Linked DNA regions of Homo sapiens. The protein of the gene in region 2 purifies or fractionates together with the protein of the main gene of each other region. This does not show direct contact. Each region holds a gene or a part of one and is shown on either strand. Other genes may lie near its edges.

The links. Proteins that work in one complex are often made in the same cells at the same time.
Region 1: the proteins of ATAD3C (region 2) and BRD1 purify together in Homo sapiens (affinity purification with mass spectrometry; one large-scale study listed by BioGRID and IntAct). This does not show direct contact.

The regions. Positions count from the first base shown.
Region 1 is NC_000022.11:49,796,874-49,800,373, reverse strand, and holds part of BRD1 (bromodomain-containing protein 1), read left to right. Parts: intron 1-1,254; coding exon 1,255-1,386; intron 1,387-1,687; coding exon 1,688-1,816; intron 1,817-2,256; coding exon 2,257-2,569; intron 2,570-3,500. UniProt on the Homo sapiens protein: Scaffold subunit of various histone acetyltransferase (HAT) complexes, such as the MOZ/MORF and HBO1 complexes, that acts as a regulator of hematopoiesis.
Region 2 is NC_000001.11:1,448,479-1,452,488, forward strand, and holds the start of ATAD3C (ATPase family AAA domain-containing protein 3C), read left to right. Parts: upstream 1-1,210; 5' UTR 1,211-2,205; coding exon 2,206-2,280; intron 2,281-3,567; coding exon 3,568-3,644; intron 3,645-3,886; coding exon 3,887-3,956; intron 3,957-4,010.

The sequences.
Region 1 (3,500 bases), on a different chromosome or scaffold from region 2:
CTGCCTGAGGGTGTTCAGCAGCATTGAGGAAAACCCAGAGATCCTCACTTCAGGGGACATCAGCGCAGCAACGCTCTGCCTCGCCATGGAGAGGCCTGGCCTTGGGGGTGGGGGTGCGGGGCTCGGCCTCCCTCCTTGAGCCTCCTTTTCTGAGCAGTTTGGAGTCCGGGGTCCTTGCATCTTGTAGTCCAGCAGTCTTTGCCTTCACACCCTCGGTCCTTTGAAAAGCTATGACAGTACCCTGAGGTGGGCAGGTGGGAACCCGGGGACAGAGGCGTTGGGGGAGAGGAGGGTCTCAGGGCTGTGAAGCATGTGCCAGAAACTGATGGCCACGGCTGTCCTGAGGCTGGCAGGGCGCGCGTGTCCTGCAGCTGTGGAGGATGACAGGTGTTGGGGGCCCACTCAGGCCAACTCCCTCGTTGACTTCCTCTCCCCTTTGAGGTAGGGTCAGGGTGCCCCGGCACTGTGACGAGCAGGCCTCATGCGGCCAGGCCTGGGGGACATGGTGAGGACAGGGCTGAGGGCAGACCCAGGTGGCCTACTCTCCTGCGACCATCTGTGTCATGGCCTTTGCAGGGCTCTGATTTTCTTCTGATCACCCTGGTGTGGATGTTGGCTGGGTTGAGGCTGGCGGCCTGTGCTGTCTGGCGCACTCTTCTGTCCACTGAGAAGGGAGCAGGTGCTATCAATGGAAATGGGACCCTGGCTGTGGGGAAACGTGTGTCGGGATGGAGGCGCTGTGCAGGGCAGGGCAGCAGGTCGGCTGTGTGCCAGGCCCCCGTCATGCTCTGTCCAAGCCAGGATGGGCCCAGCATGTGGTTTTCTGTGCACCTGGTTTCTTTCCAGCCGCTCCCTCCATTCCCAGCTGTCCTGGAGGTGGGTCCTCAAGGGTCCCCCATTCTGTCCTGGCCCCGCCTTTGTGGGCCTTTCTGGTTCTGTGAAGGCCCCCCCCGCCGCCAGCTTGCGGAGGCCTCTGTCCTCTCTGGAGGGTGGAACCTGTGCACCGGGGCCAGCCCCCTGCTCACCTTGGCCTGGCGGTCCCCTCTGTCCCCTCCATCCCCTCTGTCTCCTCTGTCCCCTCTGTCCCGGTGCTGTCCTGGGGCTCTCTAGTGAGGGTGGTCTGTTGTCCTCCCCAGGATGGGCCTGCAGGACCCCTGACGTGGATGCCTCTTGGGGTCTCACCTGCATGGTATCTGAGGCCTTTTGCAGAAGGAGCCTCTGGGTTTGACTGACGGAAGTGTTCACTGTTCTCAGAGAGAAAATGATGAGGAGATGAAGGCTGCCAAAGAGAAGCTGAAGTACTGGCAGCGGCTGCGGCACGACCTGGAGCGCGCTCGCCTGCTGATCGAGCTGCTGCGCAAGCGGGAGAAGCTCAAGCGTGAGCAGGTGGGGCTGGGCCTGTCCCGCGTGGAGTGCACCACTGGCCACGGGGCGTGGGTGGGACGCTGGCAGCTCCTGCAGAGGGTGGGCTGCACCCGGTGGGTCCTGGCCCACAGCAGTGCCTTGCTCAGCCCAGGCTGGGTGCCTGGCTGCCATGGGTTGCAGAGCCCTAAGTGGAGGCTGCGTTGTCCTATGCCTGGACGGAAGCACAGGAGCCTGTGGGGGCTGCTTGTGGCTGTGGGGCGCGTGGTGGGGCTGAGACGCATGTGCGGCTCCCTAAAGCTGAGGCTCTGCTGGGCCCCCCCAGGTGAAGGTGGAGCAGGTCGCCATGGAGCTGCGGCTGACCCCGCTGACGGTGCTGCTGCGCTCAGTGCTGGACCAGCTGCAAGACAAGGACCCCGCCAGGATATTTGCGCAGCCCGTGAGTCTGAAGGAGGTGGGTGTTTGCGGCGCTCGTCTGTCCTGCCGCATGTGTGACTGTGGATTTGTGCTGCCGTTTGACCGGGAAACGTGTGATTGGCTAGAGTACATCCCTTGTGTTCTTAATTCTCGTTTTTATTTAACGTATTTGTTTTTAAATTATAAAAGTGATACATTTCATTGTAAAATACTGAAAGTGCAGTGGGCAAGAGGCCCTGTGCAGACAGTACCCTGGGCTGTGGCAGCATCCGCCCGGCACCCTCCAGCGTGCTTTAGCTGAAGGAGCTGGGGTCGGGAAGGTCCCTGCAGTACTTGGGTCTTATGTCTGTACCGTCTGCGTGTCTGTGTGTGGCTCTCAGATAGGATGGGCTTGTGGGTTATATGGAATAATAAATATAGAGTCAACTAATATCCTGTTTTAGTTTGTAAATGATTCTTTTTCCTCCCTAAAATTAGGTACCAGATTATTTGGATCACATTAAACATCCCATGGACTTTGCCACAATGAGGAAACGGTTAGAAGCTCAAGGGTATAAAAACCTCCATGAGTTTGAGGAGGATTTTGATCTCATTATAGATAACTGCATGAAGTACAATGCCAGGGACACCGTGTTCTATAGAGCCGCGGTGAGGCTGCGCGATCAGGGAGGTGTTGTTCTGAGGCAGGCCCGGCGCGAGGTGGACAGCATCGGCTTGGAAGAGGCCTCGGGGATGCACCTGCCTGAGCGGCCTGCTGCGGCACCGCGGCGGCCTTTCTCCTGGGAAGACGGTAAGAACTGGCGCCGTGTCCGGAGGAGGTGGAAGACGCTCTTTCTAGCAGACTCTGTCCTGCTCTGTGTTGCCAGCTCCCTATCAGCATGGTCCGGGAGCCACTAGCATGCAACCGCATACATCATTTACATTTTCTAGTAGCCTCACTGAAAAATGGAAAAGAAGCAGGTGGAATTTACTTTAATAATATGTCTTATTTTACTCAGTGTATGGAAGAGTTGATTTCAACATGGGATCGGTAAACGTTACTGAGGATATATAAGCTTTTCACCTTCTTTGCCATCTGATGTGTATTTTACGCTCAGCACCTGTCACTTCAGACTGGCTGCGTTTTGGGTGCCCACCAAGAGGACTGTGTGGCTGTGGCTCCCTATGGGGTGGCCGGTCTCGACGATGCAGACCCAGAAAGCAGCTTAGTTGGGGGTTTTCATCCAGAGTGGGCCTCGGCTAACTTCTGAGGGTGGCGTGAAGCCGGAGGATCTCTGGCTTTGCCTCCAGCCCTTTAACTTCGTGGTTTGCGCATGTTGTAGAAAGGGCTCTGGGAGTGTGTCCACGGCCCACCTGGACTCCAGCCTGGGCTTGTGCTTCTTGGTTGCCCAGGCACGTGTTGCAGCCATGTGTAGTCACCTGCACCCTTCTCTAGACTGGTCCTCGGAAACCGGGGCTGTCCCCTGCACCCTGCTTGTTAGTCGCACCTCTGGGATTGTCTGTCGAAGGGTGTGTCCTGCCCACATGGGTTGTCAAAGCACATAGAGCTCCAGCACCTCAGCTCCAGCTCTGAGCCACAAACTGAGCAGAAATCACGGTGTGTTTGGCTTATTTGTCTAAAGGTCCCATATCCCTGATTTCTTGGCCTACCCTTTCTCTTGATGAATCACTGACCCGTGCTAGGTCGCTTCTTCTGGGATGAGGCCTGGCCCTCTTCCTCT
Region 2 (4,010 bases):
GTTGGCCAGGCTGCTGTCGAACTCCTGACCTCAGGTGATCCTGACCTCAGGTGATCCACTCGCCTCAGCCTCCCAGAGTGCAGGGATTACAGGTGTGAGCCACAGAGCCCGGCCTCTTAACTCTATTTCCACAAGAGTTTTTCCTGTTAGTTACTGATTACCCATTGTGTCTTTTTCCTCGAATCACCTGGGAGGAACTATCTTTAAATAAGTGTCGTCCTGTAATGCACTACGGCCGTCTGTGGGTTACCACATTAAGGATAGTTGTCAGTGGCCTCCATGCCTTTCGGTAAGTTGTTTTTTTTTTTTTTTTTGAGACAGAGTCTCATTCGTCGTCGAGGCTGGAGTGCAGTGGCACTGTGTCGGCTCACTGCAACCTCTGTCTTTCCTGGGTTCAAGCAATTCTCCTGCCTCAGCCTCCTGCATAGCTGGGATTGCAGGCATCCACCACCGCACCCGGCTAATTTTTTGTATTTTTAGTAGAGACAGGGTTTCACCATGTTAACCAGGATGATCTCCTGACCTCCTGAACTGCCCGCCTCGGCCTCCCAAAGTGCTGGGATTACAGGCGTGGTGAGCTGCCACGCCGGGCGTACTCTGGCTTTTAAAAGAATGGGGCACATTGCTTTTTCTTGACTACTTCTATCTCTCCTTTTCTCTCTCTCTCTAACTCTGTCTCTCTCTCTCTCTGGCTCTCTCTGTCTCTTTGACTCTGTCTCTCTCTGTCTGTCTCTGTCTCACTCTCTAACTCTGTCTCTCTCTCTGACTCTGTCTCTGCCTGTCTCTCTCTCTCTTTGACTCTCTCTCTCTCTCTGACTTCCTCTGTTCCCTCTGTCAGTCTTTCTCTCTCTTTGACTCTGTCTCTCTGACTCTGTCTCTCTCTCTCTCTGACTCTCTCTCTCTCTCTGACTTTCTCTGTTCCTTCTGTCAGTCTTTCTCTTTCCTCTAAGATTTTTTTCCCTTTCTCTTAGAATCTCTTCTACAGGCTTATTTTTCTAGTTCTTTCTTTTGTAATTTGTGGTTAATATCTGGCCAACTGTTAGTGACAAATTCCTTGCCCAAGAGGATCCTCGACACCTCGACCAGCATATTTTCTCATTTGTTCTTTTAATCTGTCTAAAAATTATGTCGCAGGCCCTTTATCTTTTCCTTGCTGTATGTTAAATATTCGGGTAAGATTCTGGGTTCCGGGCATGGATTCTTTAATCCCCTTCATGATTAACTCCCCAAGGTCCTGCATATTTTCTCAATGGGCCACCGCGCCCGGCCAGAAGATTTTTATGGTAAAATTTTGTGATGGGAAAACTCATCCCGGAAAATGTTGAGACCTGATGCTGAGTCCTCAGCAGCTCAGAGAATACGTACTTCTGTCCCAGGTCACCCAAACATTGACCTGTGTCGGTTCCCCACTAGGAACAAAATGTAACTGAGGACGTTGTCAGATGCTTGTCCTCGTCACCCTGAGCTTGTTGGCTGCTATCTAATTCTTATTCTTTCATTTTCTTGCCCGCACGTTCTTGATAGCAGATCACTGACAACAGCCATTGGAAGCTTAGGAAAAGGGTATGTGCCGGGCGCGGTGGCTCACACCTGTAATCCCAGCACTTTGGGAGGCTGAGGTGGGCGGATCACGAGGTCAGGAGATCGAGACCATCCTGGCTAACACGGTGAAACCGTCTCTACTAAAACTACAAAAATTAGCCGGGTGTGGTGGCGGTCGCCTGTAGTCCCAGCTACTCGGGAGGCTGAGGCAGGAGAGTGACGTGAACCCGAGAGGTAGAGCTTGCAGTAAGCAGAGATCATGCCACTGCACTCCAGCCTGGGCCAGAATGAGACTCCGTCTCAAAAAAAAAAAAAAAAAAAGCATGTGTAACGTGAAAAAATGGACACTTTAGCCATCGCCTGACTTTCTGTTGAATTGGGAAAGAGCCTCCTCCCGTCCACATGGGATGGCCTTCCTGATGTGGCTCTCCAAGACCATCCCTGGAGGGCATAAAACCTCACAAATGCATCAGGCCGTGTGCTGGGGATGGGGCATCGTCACGCCAGGTCTGACTAGGAAGGAGGATGGGGAGGCAGGGCTGGGGGCTTTGAGGTCGAGGCGTGGCCGTGGATTCCAGAAAGCCCCTTGGCTGGTGTGCGTGCCTGCCCAGCGGCATCCGTGTATCCTAACACCTGCCCTCCGTGTCCCTGCATCTGCAGGCCATGTCAAAGGACGCCCTGAATCTGGCGCAGATGCAGGAGCAGACGCTGCAGTTGGAGCAACAGTCCAAGCTCAAAGTGAGTGGGGCCGGTGTGGGCGGGGAGGCCGGGGCACACATGGGGTTCGGGCGTGGAGATTGGTAGGGCTACTGCCGGTGGGTAGGGCCGGGGGTGTGTACATGGGCAGCAGTGGGGCCCAGGGCCAAGCTTGGGCGCCTCATTTCACAGAAGGAAACAAGGGGAGGTGAGAGACGCTGCCGCAGAGCCGCCCGAGAGGGAGGGCCGGTGTTGGTGAGGGCGTCTGGTCGTCCTGAGGGCCTGGATCTTCTTGACATTCTCACCTCATTTCTTTGACTCAGCAGGATTTTTTTTTTTTTTGAGATGGTGTCTTGCTCTGTCGCCCAGGCTGGAGTGCAGTGGTGCGACCTTGGCTCACTGCAAGCTCCACCTCCCGGGTTCACACCATTCTCCTGCCTCAGCCTCCTGAGGAGCTGGGACTACAGGCACCTGCCACCACGCCCAGCTAATTTTTTTTGTATATTTAGTAGAGATGGGGTTTCAGCGTGTCAGCCAGGATGGTGTCGATTTCCTGATCTCCGCCTGCCTCAGCCTCCCAAAGTGCTGGGATTACAGGCGTGAGCCACCGCGTCCAGCTCAGCAAGATTTTTTAATTTTATTTATTTTGAAACGGAGTCTCACTCTGTTGCCCAGGCTGGAGTGCAATGGTGCGATCTCAGCTCACCGCAACCTCTGCCTCCTGGGTTCAAGCCATTCTCCTGCCTCAGCCTCCCAAGTCGCTGGGATTACAGGCACCCACCACCATACTCGGCTAATTTTTGTATTTTTATTAGAGACAGGGTTTCACCATGCTGGCCAGGCTAGTTTTGAACTCCTGACCTCAAGTGATCACCTGCGTCGGCCTCCCAAAGTGCTGGGATTACAGGTGTGAGCCACGGTGCCCGGCCGGTCACCTTCAGTCCTGAGCTCACAGGCGGGGTTCACGTGTTGCCTGTTGTGGGCATTGTAGCTTTAACGTTTAATTGGCAGAAGACAGAAGCTTCCTTAAGCCCAGCCTGAATCAGGGCAGTGGTGTTGGGAGGTCGGCCAGCAGTGGCCCTTGTCAGGGAAGCCACAGTGGGGGCTGTTTCTGCCGCTGGGGAGTTTGGGCCCCTGAACCCATCCCCTCAGTGACTGCCGTCCCGGCCGATGTCACCCGTGTCTGTGTCAGGGTGCGGCGTCTGCAGGTCCCCAGGTGCCCGGGACGCTTGGAGCCCTGCGGTCCTGGGGCGGACGCAACCTCTGGATTGGTGTTGAGCATTTTTCTGGTTTTAAAGGCTTTTCTCTTTTTCTGCGGCTTCTTCTCAGCAACTTGTCAATGAGGATTTACGGAAGCAGGAGGAGTCCGTGCAGAAGCACCATCAGACCTTCTTGGAGTCCATCAGGTGAGCGCTGCCGAGGCCCGGGCCGGCCGCAGATGGAGCCCCCACAGGTGTGAGTCGCTGGTCCCAGGGTGCTCTCCAGCTCTCCCAGGTCTGGCCGCTGTAGGCTGGCTCCTTGGTGGGGACACTGCCCCCCTGTCCTGGCAGGACCAGGCTGCTGTGTCAAGGCCTCACCCTCAACCTGTTCTTGCTACGTGGCGTGGGTCTTTGTTTCCCTCCTGGTCACACCACTGCTTTCCCCACAGGGCGGCTGGCACCTTGTTTGGGGAAGGATTCCGTGCCTTTGTGACAGACCGGGACAAAGTGACAGCCACGGTAAACATACTCATAAAACAGGGCTGGCAGGTGGCTGAGGGGCAGCATGTGGGG